Regions from separate parts of the Homo sapiens genome. Here region 2 is linked to region 1. Evidence: fine-mapped expression QTL. Tissue or cell type: whole blood. Region 1 holds a variant in brackets; the other region holds the start of a gene. All regions are shown on one strand. Distances are from middle to middle.

Evidence for each region. PIP is the estimated chance that this variant, and not a neighbour inherited with it, causes the effect.
Region 2: it holds the start of TNFRSF13C, and the variant in region 1 is fine-mapped to the expression of TNFRSF13C in whole blood (INTERVAL, PIP 0.95).

Annotation. Positions count from the first base shown.
Region 1 is chr22:41,211,393-41,219,650 of GRCh38, forward strand. It overlaps L3MBTL2 (L3MBTL histone methyl-lysine binding protein 2), which reads left to right. Exons shown (of 17, transcript NM_031488.5): 3 at 2,501-2,634; 4 at 4,747-4,870; 5 at 5,731-5,810; 6 at 8,027-8,144. L3MBTL2-AS1 (L3MBTL2 antisense RNA 1) reads right to left here and starts at 6,235. Exons shown (of 3, transcript NR_148200.1): 1 at 5,640-6,235; 2 at 2,238-3,311. RefSeq lists enhancers at 6,409-7,106, 7,107-7,803. The variant C/T (reference allele first, on the strand shown) is at 3,511.
Region 2 is chr22:41,922,318-41,930,317 of GRCh38, forward strand. TNFRSF13C (TNF receptor superfamily member 13C) reads right to left here and starts at 4,489. Exons shown (of 3, transcript NM_052945.4): 1 at 4,321-4,489; 2 at 3,784-4,014; 3 at 1-3,237. The coding sequence starts at 4,456. The coding sequence ends at 3,050. MIR378I (microRNA 378i) reads right to left here and starts at 980; the gene lies at 905-980. It also overlaps a transcript of CENPM not described here. RefSeq lists enhancers at 1-2, 2,716-3,217, 3,218-3,717, 6,275-6,344, 6,488-7,098 and 1 more and a silencer at 3,810-4,549.

The DNA of each region.
Region 1 (8,258 bases):
CAGGGGTTTTGCCCTGTTACCCAGGCTGGTCTTGAACTCCCAAGCTCAAGTGATCCCCCACCTCAGCCTCCCAAAGTGCTAGGATTACAGGCATGAGCCACCGCACCCAGCCCCAAACTCGTTAGAAGAGTAATCTAATACTCTTTGCAGTTGAATCTTATTTCCTTTTTTTTTTTTTTTTTGAGACGGAGTCTTGCTCTGTCACCCAGGCTGGAATGCAGTGACATGATCTTGGCTCACTGCAAGTTCCGCCTCCCAGGTTCAAGCCATTCTCCTGCCTCAGCCTCCCCAGCAGCTGGGACTACAGGCGCCTGCCACCACACCCGGCTAATTTTTTTTGTATTTTAGTAGAGACGGGGTTTCACCATGTTAGCCAGGATGGTCTCGATCTCCTGACCTTGTGATCTGCCCTCCTCGGCCTCCAAAAATGCTGGGATTACAGGCGTGAGCCACCGCACCCGGCCTTTTTTTTTTTTTTTTTTTTTTTTTGAAACAGAGTCTCGCTGTGTCACCCAGGCCGGAACGCAGTGGCACGATCTTGGCTCACTGCAAGCTCCGCCTCCCGGGTTCACGCCATTCTCCTGCCTCAGCCTCCCAAGTAGCTGGGACTACAGGCGCCCTCCGCCATGCCCGGCTAATTTTTTGTATTTTTTAGTAGAGACGGGGTTTCACCGTGTTAGCCAGGATGGTCTCAATCTCCTGACTACGTGATCCGCCCGCCTCAGCCTCCCAAAGTGCTGGGATTGCAGGCGTGAGCCACCGCTCCCGGCCTTACTTCCTTTCTATTTATATTGTCTTCTTTTCATCCCTTGCCTTTTATCTTTCTCCCTTCTATCCTCTTCCAGCCCTTCTCTTAGAATCTTAGGATTTAGAACTAGAAGGAACCATTAGAGACCACTTAGACCAGGGGTTCTGCACATTAGAATCATCTAGGGGAGCTTTTAACAAACTACAGGTACCAGTATCCCGTCACAGACCAATTCATTAGAATTTTAGGTTCAGGCTTTTTTTTTTTTTTTTTTGAGACAGCGTTTCACTCTTGTTGCCCAGGCTGGAGTGCAGTGGTGCCATCTCAGCTCACTGCAACCTCCGCCTCCCAGGTTGAAGGGATTCTCCTGCCCCAGCCTCCGGAGTAGCTGGGATTATAGACGCCCACCACCGCGCCCGGCCATCTCAGGCATTTTTAAAAGCTCCCCAGGTGGGTCTAATAGTGAAGTCACGGGCCAGGCATGGTGGCTCACGCCTGTAATCCCAGCACTTTGGGAGGCCGAGGCGGGAGGATCACAAGGTCAGGAGTTCAAGACCAGCCTGCTCAACATGGCGAAACCCCGTCTCTACTAAAGATATAAAAAATTAGCCAGGCGTGGTGGCACATGCCTGTAGTCCCAGCTACTCAAGAGGCTGAGGCAGGAGAATCCCTTGAACCCGGGAGTCGAAGGTTGCAATGAGCCAAGATGGCGCCACTGCACTCCATCCTGGGCAACAAGAGCAAAACTCCATCTCAAAAAAAAAAAAAAGTGAAGTCACGATTAAAACACTGATCTAGCTGGGCGCATTGGCTCACGCCTGTAATCCCAACACTTTGGGAGGCCGACACGGCGGATCACAAGGTCAGGAGATTGAGACCATCCTGGCTAACATGGTGAAACCCCGTCTCTACTAAAAACACAAAAAAATTAGCTGGGTGTGGTGGCAGTGCCTGTAGTCCCAGCTACTCGGGAGGCTGATGCAGGAGAATGGCGTGAACCCGGGAGGCAGAGCTTGCAGTGAGCCAAGATTGCGCCAGTGTACTACTCCAGGCTGGGTGACAGAGCAAGGCTCCGTCTCAAAAATAAATAAATAAAACACTGATCTAGTTCAGTCCCTTTACTATATAGATGAGAAAATAGAGCCACAGAGGTTAAGTGACTTTGGCACTTTTTCTTCCTATAAATTTTTTCGCTTTTTTTTGAGACAGTGTCTTACTTTGTTGCCCAGGCTAGAGGTACAGTGGTGCAGTCATGGCTCACTGCAGCCTCAGCCTCCTGGGCTCAGGCAGTTTCCCCCCGCCAAATCACACCTGGCCTTTTTTTTTTTTTTTTGGGCAACAAGGTCTTGCTATGTTGCCCAGGATGGTCTCAAATTCTTGCCCTCAAGCAATCCTCCCTCCTTGGCCTCCCAAACTGCCGGGATTACAGACAGGAGCTACCATGCCTAGTTTCTTCTCACTTTCCTCTGACAAACTTTTCAACACTCACCTGTTCCCCCAGTCGTCCTCATGGATTTCCATTAGCCCCTCTGTTGACATCTGTAGCCAAGGGAGGCCAAGCAGCAGCACTTCATTCAGGTAGATTCAGGATATACACACCAGTACCTCCCATTCCTCCTCTTATTCCATTAGCCTTTGTGGGGGCAGGGGCTCACCTGGTTAATGCAGTGCCCCAGGTTTTGAAGGGCCCATCACTTTGTTTGCTTTGAGGTGGTCATATCGGGTGAGTCATGTGCTAAGTTCTCTTCCCAGCTGTCTGTGAGATGTGTGGTATCGTGGGTACAAGGGAAGCCTTCTTCTCCAAGACCAAGAGGTTCTGCAGCGTCTCCTGCTCCAGGAGCTACTCCTCCAACTCCAAGAAAGCCAGTATCTTGGCTAGGTTACAGGTGAGAGGCAATCACTTGGATCCTTCCCGGTGCCTTTGGTGCTGAGACAGGAACCACCAAGTGACTGAAGGCCAGGGCCAGGAAAGTTTGAAAAGGTCCTTGCTTGTGGCCAGCTGGTATTTATTATGTTCTCAAACTTCAGAGGACAGTAGAATCCATTTGTGGAGCTTTTTAAATTATAGGTTCCTGAAGCTACGCTCCATTACCTACCATCATCCCCCAGAGTCTGGTGTATTCAGTACATTTTAAACAAGAACTATGGGGGAGTCTGACACCCTTGGTCTTCACCCCACACTTTTATAAATCCTTTCAAAGGAAGTTGGGAAACAGGCCCAAGGTTCACCAGCCACGGTGGCTTCAGGAAGACCATGCCTCCTCGGACTCCATGTCACAGGCAGCTACCTAGAAAGTCTTGCCAATTTTCTAAATTACTGATATTTATAGAATCTTTAGAGATGGAAAGATTCTTGGATGTGGTGTTGAACCCACACATTTATTGATAAGTATACTGAGGTCCAAGGAGGTAGAATGACATACCTAGTGTGGCTCTGTAGGAGGAGAATGGCGGAATTGAGGCTGGAACCTCATCTCAGGGGCCTCATCTTACCTTGTTTCCCAGTAGCTGGGACCAGCATCTGCAACACTGCTTCCCAAATTTGCCTGCATGTTGGGATCACCTGGAAAGTTTAAAAATTATTGATGCTGGTCGGGCACGGTGGCTCACGCCTGTAATCCCAGCACTTTGGGAGACCGAGGCGGGCGGATCACGAGGTCAGGAGATCGAGACCATCCCAGCCAACATGATGAAACCCCGTCTCTACTAAAAATACAAAAATTAGCCAGGCGTGGTGTTGTACGCCTGTAGTCCCAGTTACT[C/T]GGGAGGCTGAGGCAGGAGAATCGCTTGAACTTGGGAGGTGGAGGTTGCAGTGAGCCGAGATCGTGCCACTGCACTCCAGCCTGGGGGGAAAATATTATGTAAAATATATTGATGCTTGGGTCCTACTCCGAAAGGTTCTGATTTAACTGGGATGGTGTGTAGCCTGGACAGAGATTGGAAGAGCTCCCAGGTGATCCTAATGTGCAGCGAAGTTTGAGCACCACCGATGTTTATTAGAAATTGCTGTGTCCCAGATCCTTCTGCTTACTGCTTCATACACTGTCGCCTTTGTGAGACAATTACCATTGTTTCCCCATTTTGTAGATTTTACTTAAGGCACCGAAAGATCCCTCTCTTCCGAGAGCTAAGAATAATATTGGTAATATTAATAGCTATGGTTTGGGAGTACTTGCTAAGGGCTTGACATTCTCAGTCCAATTAACGATCTTAAAAAATTTGATTTTTAAAAAAATTCCTTTTTATAAAGGCTCAGAAATTTTAGTAACTTACTTAAAGGTATACAACTAAAAACTGTAGAACTGGGATTTGCCCTGTAGGTTTGTTTGGGACTTAAACCCAGATTTCTGCTTCACTGATCTCTTTAGTAAATTCCTGGCCTTCCTGTTCAGTACTTAAGTTACAAAATACAGACCAGATCAGTGGCCATTCCCTTTGGAAAGGGAGGACCCCCTTTGAGTACCTAATGAAAGCTGTGGGTCCTCTCCCAAACATTCGCCTATGTGGACCCTCTCCCGAACATTCGCCTATGTGGACCCTCTCCCGAACATTCGCCTATGTGGACCCTCTCCCGAACATTCGCCTATGTGGACCCTCTCCCAAACATTCGCGTATGTACAGAAGGTTGCCTCCCAGTTCATGAGCGTTTCTGGGCCCCTGTGAGGCCCATTCTTTGCTTTGGATCTATCAGTAGCGACACTGGAGGAAGGAGATGACTGAGACTTGAATCTGGGAGGACAGAAAGGCTTAAAAGATAGAACATGGGTCTCTCCCTGCTCTGCAGCACTGCCTAGCACCCCCTAGCACCCCCGACGCTTCCCCACAACCACCCCCTGAGCTCAGGATTGTTATTGTCATCACTGTTTCACACATGAAGAAACTGAAGCCCAAAAGAGGTTAAGTCACTGGCCCAAGCCCAGGACTTCAACTTGGCGGCCCAAATCCAGACTCATGATCCCAGCCGCCAGGCTACACATAGCCTCTGTCCTCCTCTCCAGGGAAAACCACCGACCAAAAAAGCCAAAGTCCTGCACAAGGCTGCCTGGTCTGCCAAAATTGGAGCCTTCCTCCACTCTCAAGGGACAGGACAGCTGGCAGATGGGACACCAACAGGACAAGACGGTAAGATAGCAGAGGGCCCTGCTTAGGAAGCTGCCGTGGCTGGGGAGGAGACTGGGTTTGGGGTGGCCTTTCCTAGGAATGAAGACTGGGCAAACCGGCCAGGTAGAAAGTGCCCTAAGTCAGGGTCACTGCGGATTGCATCTTCCTCACCTGTTGGGTATTGTGGAAATTACCCAGAAAAATGCCTTCAAACACCCTTAAATTATCAGGACTCCTACCCATGATAATTCAAAAGCCAAGAATTGGCTGTTTTTGTTTCTCTTTGCTTTTATCCTTTTGGTTTCTGTTTCCCTGGGGCAACGAAGGCCCAGATATGGTTTGAAGGCAGGTTTGGAGAGGGGTGGTGGGATAAGGAAAGGAGCCTCTCTCTGAGTGTGTAGCAATTGCTAAGCAAGTTAAATGTATGCATAAAGCAACTCTGCTATCATTGTTCTGAGTTTCTAACTGAAATTGAGCTCAGCAGGCCGGAGCTCAGTTGGAGGGGCCCTGGTGTGTGCGCACCCCCTCCCCCACATTTAGATTGGGTGTGGCCAATCAGGTTCAGGGCGGAGGGAGGAATTTAAGCCCAGGGATATTTCAGTTTTCCCCTTTGGGGGAAGAAGGGCGAGAAATTTCCCTTTGAATGTTCCTCTACTCCTGAGAGTCTTGCCACCTTTCAATTCAGTCCTCAACAGTGGTCCCTCATGGCCACTGGTGGATCAGGTATGGGAGTGAAGGAGGGTGTCGTGGGCAGCGCTGTGAGAGGGGCTGCTGGGGGTGGGGGACCTACCTCTGCAGGTCCCACAGGGCCCTTGGGGTCCAGGCTCCTGGAGTGGCTGCTGCGCAGGCTCCTAGTCTGACTCGTCCTCTCTGCTCTGCAGCTCTGGTCTTGGGCTTCGACTGGGGGAAGTTCCTGAAGGATCACAGTTACAAGGCTGCTCCCGTCAGCTGTTTCAAGCACGTGAGTGCCCTGGAGCTGAGGGAGGGAGGCCGGGGAGCCGGGCCTGGAGCTGCTCCTCCACCTGCTTCACCAGGGCGGCTTCAGGCTGGACAGTGACAGTGGGGAGGTCTGGGCAGGAGACGGATGGCGTTACCACTCGCTCCATTTCATGTTTATGTCAAAAAAATCCTCCTACAAACACTTCTATCACCTGCTTGGCTTCACTCCCGGTCTGAAGCCCTTCAGTTTATTTACATGATGGAACTTGGTGCTAGCTGATGTCGAAGGGTCTTTGCAGTCTGAAACCCTTCTCTCCTTTCTCCCCCATTTGCAGCATTTTCCCATGGAAAGCAGGGTGCTTCTGTAGCTGGCCTGGGCCCCGTGGGCCCCGAGAGGCAGATGTGGATGCTCCTGGAGCCACTTCTGTAAAAGGCTCCTCGATGCGGATCATGTAAAAGCCAGAACGAAGGGCAAGGCCCTTAGGGGCGGGGCTTGAGCGCAAGAACCGAATATCCAGCAGCTGTGACGTGTGGAGCCTGCAGGCCGGGAGAGCAGAGCCCACAACAGCACTCTTGTTTTGTCTTCACACCACGTCCCTAAGCTCCGGGAAATCCAGGAGGAGGCCTCTTTAGTCTTGAGGAAGTAGGGAGTCTTTTACCCAGAGTAAGCCACTTCCTCTCCTCCTTTCAGAACTGCCACTGAACTCTGGGGAGTGCCCTGAACAATGACAGCTGCTTCTTGACTCAGCTAACTCACTCCTCTCGTCTCTGAATGGCTAATGAAGGTGCACCTCCTTCCTGCTGGAGGGGGAGCCTCTTTTTTGCCCTGAATTCTCTAATAGTTTCAGCATTTTCATTTCCAGGGAGTTGCATCATCCTTGTGTCTAACACATATAATCCAATTTGCTTTGTAAAAAGCCTGCCCCTGCGTGCCTGGGCTAGCGCAACTGTGTCCGGGTTCTGTGATGAACTAAACTCAAGTGACCAGGGAGATGGAATGGGATACCTCAACTGGCTGAAGCCAGGGCTGAGAATAAAAAAGGTGAATTTGGCCAGGCGCAGTGGCTTACCCCTATAATCCCAGCACTTTGGGAGGCCGAGGCGGGTGGATCACCTGAGGTGAGGAGTTCGAGACCAGCCTGGCCAACATGGTGAAACCCCATCTCTACTAAAAATACAAAAATTAGCTGGAAGTGGTGGCAGGCACCTGTAATCCCAGCTACTTGGGAGGCCGAGACAGGAGAATCCCTTGAACCTGAGAGGCGGAGGTTGTAATGAGCTGAGATTGCGCCACTGCACTCCAGCCTGGGTGACGGAGCAAGACTCTAAAAAAAGTGATTCTCCCAAAGGAGAATCAAAAGTACCATTGGCAGGAAAGTGAGGATTAGGTACTGGGAAGGCAACTGAAACAGTCCAGTGCTGTCCTGGGGCACTTTATTTTATTTTATTTATTTTTTCGATATGGGAGTTTCACTCTTGTTGCCCAGAGCTGGAGTGCAATGGCACTATCTCAGCTCACAGCAGCCTCCCCCTCCCAGGTTCAAGCGATTCTCCTGCCTCAGCCTCCGGAGTAGCTGGGATTACAGGCATGTGCCACCACCACGCCCGGCTAATTTTGTATTTTTAGTAGAGACATGGATTCTCCATGTTGGTCAGGCTGGTCTCGAACTCCCAGCCTCAGGTGATCCGCCCGTCTCGGCCTCCCAAAGTGCTGGGATTACAGGCGTGAGCCACCATGCCTGGCCCCCTGGAGCATTTCAGTAGGAGGGGAGGTAGAGAGTAAACTTGCAGGTGGATGGCTGTGTGTAAACAAGGGGGTCATAATGCCCACAGCCCAGGTTTGTATGATGATTGAAGGAAAGTATATTTGTGCTAATATCAGCGCCCTGCCATTGCTCGGGCTGGCACAGGGACGAAGGGATCGAGGCTCACCAAGGCATCATGTGCCCAAAATGATACAGTAAGAAACCAGTCCTATAAAGATTTTAGGACTCGGTTCTGTCTGACTCTGGGTCTCTAGCCATCACCCTGCATCCCACCACCTCCACCTCTACTCCCGGCTTAGCTCTTCAAGGACAGGAGACCTCATCTCTTTATCTCTAGTAGCTGGTTCTGCACACAGTGGGTGATGTGAAAAGTTGAGGTGCAAACGAGGACTTGACTGAGGCCGTGAGGCAGTCTGTCTCCCCTGCTAGCACAGTTAGCTCACTCTCTCGGTACACTCTCATCGCCACACAGGTCCCACTCTATGACCAGTGGGAGGATGTGATGAAAGGGATGAAGGTGGAGGTGCTCAACAGTGATGCTGTGCTCCCCAGCCGGGTGTACTGGATCGCCTCTGTCATCCAGACAGCAGGTGAGTGTTTGGCCAGGGCAGGGCCAGGGATGTGTCTGCAGAGTGACATCTCTAGATGGGTGAACAGTGTTGTAGGCAGGAGTTGGCTTCATAAAACAAAAATCCCACCCACTG
Region 2 (8,000 bases), 710 kb after region 1:
TGCTCTTATGAAGATCAAATGAGGTATTGATGTGACGGCTCTGGGTCTCAGTTTCCTCGTCTGTTAAATGCATATGAGAATTATCTAAGGTTCCTTCCTGCCCTTCTCTGGGGACCACAGGCCAGGAGGAGAACCTTGCATACAACCCCTCATTTTTCAGAAGAAAAAACTGAGAACTCAGGGGAAACTTCCTACCGGCTGGCGGGGCCAGCTGGGACAGAGAGATGCCCAAGGTTTGCATGTCTGAGCCCCAGAGGGGTTTCACCCACCCTCGGGGTTTTCACCTGCTGAGCTAACCCTGGCTGTAGCAAAAGATGGGGTGGGAGATGGGGGTGTCCAGGAGAAGATGGGGTGGGGGAGATGGGGTGGCCAGGAGAAGATGGGGTGGCCAGGAGAAGATGGGGTGGGAGATGGGGTGGCCAGGAGAAGATGGGGTGGGAGATGGGGTGTCAAGAGAAGATGGGGTGGGAGATGGGGTGGCCAGGAGAAGATGGGGTGGGAGCTGGGGTGGCCAGGAAAAGATGGGGTGGGGCAGATGGGGTGGCCAGGAGCAGCTCAGACTCCCCCAACTCCAGATGGAAGGGGAGTGGATGGCTGGGCCCATGTGGGCCTGACCCCACCAAACCTCTCCCACACCTACTGCTTGTCACTTGACCTCACCCTGTCACCTGGCTCCCTGGGGGCAGGGGCATCTGAGATGGGTTCATGGAGCAAATAGCCAGGCAGAGACCTGGATGTGAGTGGCCACTGTCTTCCAAGCTGGGCACACAACAGGTCCTTGGGACAGGAAGCACTGAGTCCAGAGGCCTGGCAAGGGACAGGAGGGGCAGGAGAAGCAGGGGTCTACAGGTGGCTCTGGTGGCAGCTCAGGGGGAGGCAGGCAGAAAACATCTGATGCACAGAACAGAACATGCCCAGGGCCCAAGAGTGGGAAAACAGCACCCAGAACTCCACCTTCTGACTCCTAGTCCAGTGCTCCCTTCCAAAGATGCTAAGCTGCAACAAGTTCCAAGGAAGCTGCCCAGGGCGAAGTCCAGGTCAGGAGGTTCTGACCCTGTGCAGGAGGGCAGGTAGGAGGCGGCTGACTGAGTGCACAGTGTCGTCCAGGAGTGGAAAGAGATGGTCTTGTCCCCAGACCCCAGAGCAAGGAACACCATTGTAAGAGGAGGGAGCAGCTTCCACTGTGACGGTGGGTGACCAGGGGGCTGGCACAGGATGGCCAAATAAGCCCAGCACTGGGGGGCCAGTGCTTCAGGGGAACAAGCCAGAGAGAGAAGGGAGTTCAAGGGACCTCATGTCCACCTGGTTCAAGGTCACACGCCTGCCCTGGCCTCTACACAAAGGAGCCTCCTGTAGGTCCCAGCCCTTCCATGTTTATGGCTAAATGTGCTGTGTCTTGGAGCAGCTGGAACCCCAGGTGGACCCTGAGAGAGCTACCTGCCAGCATGTTCCTTCAGCTCGAGTTTGGAGTCCAGCCCTGGAGGCTGCGCACCTCCTCCCAAATGCAGGCTTGTGGCTCTGGAAGCTGCCACTGGGGTCAAAATGGCATCTTAGGTTCTGGCAGATTGGGCCAATCTCAGGGTTGACCCTGGGGTACAGATACCTGAGAATCAGCAAAATCCAGCTCAATCTTTTCTCCTTTGTTATTTCTTAAAATAATCTTGTACTAAATCCCAAAGCAAGCGAACCCATGAATTGATTATTCACTGCTGCCATTTGCATCAGTTTAAAAGCAGGACGGCTCTGAGGGCAGGTATTAAAGAAATAGAGGCCAGGCCCGGCGCCTCCTGCCTATAATCCCAGCCCTTCGGGGAGGACTGCCTGAGGCCAGGAGTTTGAGACTGGCCTGGGCAACATACCGAGACCCTGTCTTTAAAAAAAAAAAAAGGCCAGCCACGGTGGCTCACGCCTGTAATCCTAGCACTTTGGGAGGCTGAGGCGGGCGGATCACGAGGTCAGGAGATCGAGACCATCCTGGCTAATACGGTGACACCCCGTCTCTACTAAAAATACAAAAAAAATTAGCCGGGCGTGATGGCGGGCGCCTATAGTCCCAGCTACTCAGGAGGCTCAGGCAGGAGAATGGTGTGAACCCAGGAGGCGGAGCTTGAAGTGAGCCGAAATTGCGTCACTGCACTCCAGCCTAGGCGACAGAGCGAGACTCTGTCTCAAAAAAAAAAAAAAAAAAAAAATTAGCTGGGCAAGGTGGAGCACCTGTAGTCCCACCTACTCAGGAGGCTGAAGCAGAAAGATTGCTTGAGCCCAGGCTGCAATTAGCTGGGGACCCATCGTTGCACTCCAGCCTGCGTGATACAGCAAGACCCTGTCTCAAAAAAAACCAAAACACAAAACAAGGCCGGGCATGGTGGCTCATGCCTGTAATCCCAGCACTTTGGGAGGCCGAGCAGGGCGGATCACGAGGTCAGGAGATCGAGACCATCCTGGCCAACATGGTGAAATCCCGTCTCTACTAAAAATACAAAAATTAGCTGGCTGTGGTGGTGCGTGCCTGTAATCCCAGCTATTCGGGAGGCTGAGGCAGGAGAATCACTTGAACCAAGGAGTCGGAGGTTACAGTGAGGCGAGATCGCGCCACTGTACTCCAGCCTGGCGACAGAGCAAGACTCGTCTCAAAAAAAAAAAAAAAAAAAAAAAAAAAAAATCAAACAAACACAAAAAACCACCCAACTACAAATTAGGCATCCTCCCACTTGGTCTTTTTTCAGATTCATTTTGGCTTAATGGTGCCTTCCCCATTTTAAAAGCGGTCTTTTACTCATAGTGCCCCAGCCTTTTGAAGGCACAGGAACAGGAGCTGGGCTACCACCTTCAAGGGCTGTCAAAGATGGTGAGGTCTGAAGCCAAAGGCAAGCACACCAAACTCCATGGGGGCTGAATGCTGTGGTCTGTAGTGTCTGTGCTTCTGCAGAGTTAGCCTGGTCCCAGAAAGAGGGCATGTGCATGCTGGAGTGAAGAGCTGAATTTGATTTCCAAGCCCCTGGCTGGGGGTCCAGAGGGAGGGCAGGGGCCACCTCCTGCCGGCTCCCTGCTATTGTTGCTCAGGGCCGGCCGTCTTGGTGGTCACCAGTTCAGTGGAGCCCAGCTCTGTGGCTGGCACAGGGACACTGTGGCCAGGTGGGGTGGTTCCTGGGTCTTCCCCAGGAGGAGGCCAGGCAGGAGCTGTGGCATCAGAGATTCCCGGAGACAGAATGATGACCTTGTCCAGGGGCTCTGGGGCTGCAGGCAGAGGGGGTAGAGGCTCCGTACTCAGTCACAGCCTTCCCTCCCTCCCCTAGAAGACTCCTCTGGAGGGGCAGTCCTCCGTCAAATGAAGCCCAATGCAGGGTGGGGAGGGGTGGCACCTGGCTGACCCTGAGTCCAGAGGCCTGGCCAGTGGGGAGCTGGCAGGGCAGGGAGTTGGGGAGCTGGGGCTCAGTCTGGCAAACTCTTCAGGGATTTATGGGGGAACCAAGCTCCGTTAGACTCCCAAAGGGCAGGACAGACTCCTCCCTCAGACGGGGCCCCCTTCCTGCAACCTGTCTCTTCCTCACACTGGGGTCTGTCAGGGCAGAGCTGTTCCTGGCTCCGACCAGGGTCTCAGGGGCAGGACTATGTCTCCCTCCCCAGCCTGAGCTCCTCAGCGCAAACTCTTTTCCACTCTGTCTCCGTTTCCCCTTAAAGCCCTTCTCTCCCCCTCAGGGGCCATGCATCTCCCCCTAGACCGTCCCGACACCCCAGCCCCTGCGCCCCGCTCAGACTGGTTCCCCTACACACGGAACTCACCGTCCTTGTCTCCGTCGGGGGCCTCTGCGGAGGACGCGCCGCGAAGCCGCCGCTGTCGCCGCCTCCAGCTCACCAGACCCACCAGGACCAGCGCCAGGACCAGTGCCAGGCCCAGCAGCGCGGGGGCGCCAAAGAGCAGCCCGGGCAGGGGCAGCGCCGCCTCGCCGGCCCCCGCGCCCACCGACTCCTGCGGCTGCAGCGCCGTCCTGGGCGCAGGGCTGCTGGCCCCGGCTGCTTCGGGAGGGGACAGGGAGGGAGGCCAGGGGGCCGAGGGGAGGGAGGAGCGGGGACGGGGAGGGGCGGAGGGGGGCGAGGCTGGCCGGGGAGGGGAGGGACAGCCGGGGGGCGGTGGACAAGGGGAGGGAGAGAGGCGGCGGTGAGGGCCACGCGGTGATCGCGGGCCCCTCCAGGCCCTGCCCACAGGGTCCTTTCAGCCCTCGGCGCCCCCGGGGGTCGGGGCTCTGCCTGCGCCCTGGCGATCGGGGCCCCGTTCTCCCCGCAGCTGCCGGCGCCGCGCGCCCCGTGGGTCCCCCTTACCCGGTTTCGGCCGCGGCGTGCGCAGGAGCCCGCAGGCCACGCAGTGGCGGACCAGCAGGTCGAAGCACTCGGCCGGGACGCAGGGCGTGGGGGCTGGCGCGTCCCTGCCCCGCAGGCTCCGGGGCCCTCGCCTCATGGTGCCGACGCCGCCGCACAAGCTGCGGGGACTGAGGCTGAGCTGGGCTCCGGGGCCCTCGGGGAGGAAGCGGGGGGCGGGGGGAGCACTCTGCCCTGCCCCGCCCCCGCCTGCTGGGTGGGACCGAGCTCGCCTGGGGCCCCCCTTTCTTTTCTTTTTTTTTTTTTGAGACGGAGTCTCGCTCTGTCGCCCAGGCTGGAGTGCAATGGCGCTATCTCGGCTCACTGCAAGCTCTGCCTCCCGGGTTCAAACAATTCTCTGCCTCAGCCTCCCGAGTAGCTGAGATTGTAGGCGCCCACTGCCACGCCCGGCTAATTTTTGTATTTTTAGTAGAGACGGGGTTTCACCATCTTGGTCAGACTGGTTTTGAACTCCTGACCTCGTGATCCACCTGCCTCGGCCTCCCAAAGTGCTAGGATTACAGGCGTGAGCCACCGCACCCGGCCTGGCCTCTCTTTCTACCTGTGGTTCCCCAATTCAGCCCCTCAACCAGCACCGCCTGGGTGGGCCCTCTGCTGGGTGCTGGGAGGTGTCTGGGGGCAGACCAGAGCCTCCTCTTGGGTAGGGAGGGGGATGGACCCCGCAGCCAGGACACAGACCCTGAGTGGTTCCTCTGCTCCGTCTAGCCAAAGCCTCTCCATGACCCCGAGTGCTCCCCTGCCATCTCCCCCAACCCACCTGTCTCCTCCTCTCTTCCTGCCCTTCCTGGACAGAGCTGGTTGGGGATATCAGACACCTGCTTTTTTTTTTTTTTTTTTTGAAAAAGAGTCTGGCTCTGTGCAGTGGTGCAATCTCGGCTCACTGCAACCTCTGCCTCCCAGATTCAAGCGATTCTCCTGCCTCAGCCTCCCGAGTAACTGGGATTACAGGCATGCACCACCATGCCCGGCTAATTTTTGTATTTTTAGTAGAGGTGGGGTTTCACCATTTGGCCAGGCTGGTCTCGAACTCCTGACCTCAGGTGATCCGCCCTCCTCGGCCTCCCAAAGTGCTGGGATTATAGGTGTGAAGCCACAGTGCCCAGCCTGACATCAGACACTTGTACCAGGCCCAAGTAGCATGTGGGTCTGCCCTGAGGGAATCTCACACTTGTGCTGATGGGGGAAGACAGCCTCGCAGCAAGGGCACCAGCTCACGTCATCCTGGAAGGTGGGCCGGAAGGCTTCATGGAGAGGGCGATGGTGAAGTGTTTGCCAGATGGACTGAGGTCTAGGGAGCAGATGGGGGTGAAGGCCAAAGGGGAGCAAAGGCTTGGAGGCCCAAACAGGAAGTCCAGGGAGTGCTGGGACCGAAAGGCTGGACTGGGGCCTTATCTAGCACATTAGGGAGCTTGGACTGTGGCTGGGGGACACGAGGGAGCCACTGGGGCTTTGTGCAGGGAGGACCCAGGAAGATCTGCCTATGAGTGAGGGAACTGTGACTGCAGTGGAGGGAAGCCCGCCCACACCTGCTCCTTTTCTCCAGGGCTATGTGTCCTCTCCTGCTCACCTCTGTGTCTCACTGCGGGCCCCTCCTGTCTATCTCTGCTCCCCAGTGTTTGGGGTCCCCAACTGTCTGTCACCCGTGTCTCTCTCAGACTGCGTCTCAGAAACACACACAAGCCCCTCCGCCCTCCTGGTCACATGCTACCCCCTCCCCAGGGCCAGGGCTGGAGGGAACTCTGGGAGCTCAGGGCTCAGCAGAGAGCATGGGGTTAAATGCCACACATGCCACCCAGACCCCTAAGCACTCAGGGCTGGGGAAGCACAGTGAGAGGAGAAACTCAGGGGCTGGGGAGGGAGCCTGGGGGCAGAGGGAGACCCTGAGCAGCAGCGAGGGGGAGGCAAACACTCCAGGCGGAGGGCTGCAGGGGCTAAGGCTTGGAGAGATGAAAGGGGAGCCTGAGCTGCTCTGGGGGCAGGCATGGCCACTGCCACAGGGGATGCTGGGAGGGAGGAGGGAGCATCCGGGCTGCGGATGGGCAGGGCACCAGTCCCGGGGCAGTACAGAACCTGGGGGTGTCTGGGTAGGAGGGAGATTCTGAGCTGTACCTGCAAGGGTCCCTCTCTCTGGCACTGTGGCCCACGTCCAGGGCAGGTGGCCCAGGGCAGGGGATGATGCAGCGGCTGGCCATGGAGTGAGGGGAGCAAGGCCGACCCCCAGGTTTCCAGCTTGGGAGACCCTGAAGGTTCACAAAGAACCCCAGTCAGCCAGCCCTGACTGGTGGGCGCTGGCCCACCCTCTCCATCCCCTGTACATGGGCCAGCAGCTCCCAGGCAGGAAGGTGTGGGCGGAGGGGAGCTGCAAAGGAGAAGTGGGGCTGGGGGCAGGTGTGGGTGAGCGTGGGTGTATGGTGATGTGGGGGTGGGGGCAGGTGTGGGTGAGCGTGGGTGTACGGTACAGGGATGGGGGACAGGACCCTGGAGGGGAGCCAGGGCAGGGAAGGCCTCTCTGTGAGGCAGAGAGGTGGGGACAAAGCCAGAAGACTGAGCCATAACCCTGCCACCCACATACACGTCCATCCATGTTGGTGCTGGTATTACCCATTAGTGAGGGCTGCAGAGGCCTGACTGAGTACCAGGCAGCTCATTTAGCCCTTGTGCCAGCCATGTGGGCAGACTGAGGCTTGTGGGAACCCAGGAACGGGGAACCTGTCCCTGGAGAGGGTGGCCCAGTGAGGCCAGAGTCGGGAGAATTTACAGGAGTTAGGAGGAGGGGGTCCGCCTGCCCCAGGTCTGCGTTTCACAGCAGAAGCACTGGCTGCTCTGACCCCCAGCAGAGACTCGAGGAGACTGCTCTCAAGGCCAGAGAGAGTGGGAGGGCTGGAGCCCACTGTCAGAGTTCCAGGGTCCCTTACCTTGGCCAGAGAGGGAGGCCAGCTGCTAAGAGCAGCAGACACAAATGAGACACCCACTCATGTGACACAAATGTTTGCTGGGCGCTCCCTATGTGCTGGGCCAGGTGCCGGGACAAAAGGCCTGCGGGATTCGTGTCTGTGTTGTGTGCAGGTGCCTGGCCTCACATGAACCTTTCCACTTGGGCCTCCTAAATGGGGTGGGGGTGGGGGGCTGCAGCAGGCCCTGTGTCGCTACTTGGATGACAAAACAGTTAAGAAGAATTCACAATCAGACCAATGTGGGGAATGTTAGTTTACTCCTCAATGTATTCTTATTTCCCCGTGGCTTTTTTTTTTTTTTTTTTTTTTTTTTGAGACGGAGTCTCTCTCTGTCGCCCAGGCTGGAGTGCAGTGGCGCAATCTCCGCTCACTGCAAGCTCCGCCTCCCAGGTTCACGCCATTCTCCTGCCTCAGCCTCCCGAGTAGCTGGGACTACAGGCGCCCGCCACCATGCCCGGCAAATTTTTTGTATTTTTAGTAGAGACGGGGTTTCACCGTTAGCCAGGATGGTCTTGATCTCCTCACCTCGAGATCTGCCCGCCTCGCCCTCCCAAAGTGATGGGATTACAGACGTGAGCCACCGCGTCCCTTTTTTTTTTGAGACGGAGTCTGGCTCTGTCACCCAGGCTGGAGTGCAGTGGCGTGATCTCGGCTCACTGCAGCCTCTGC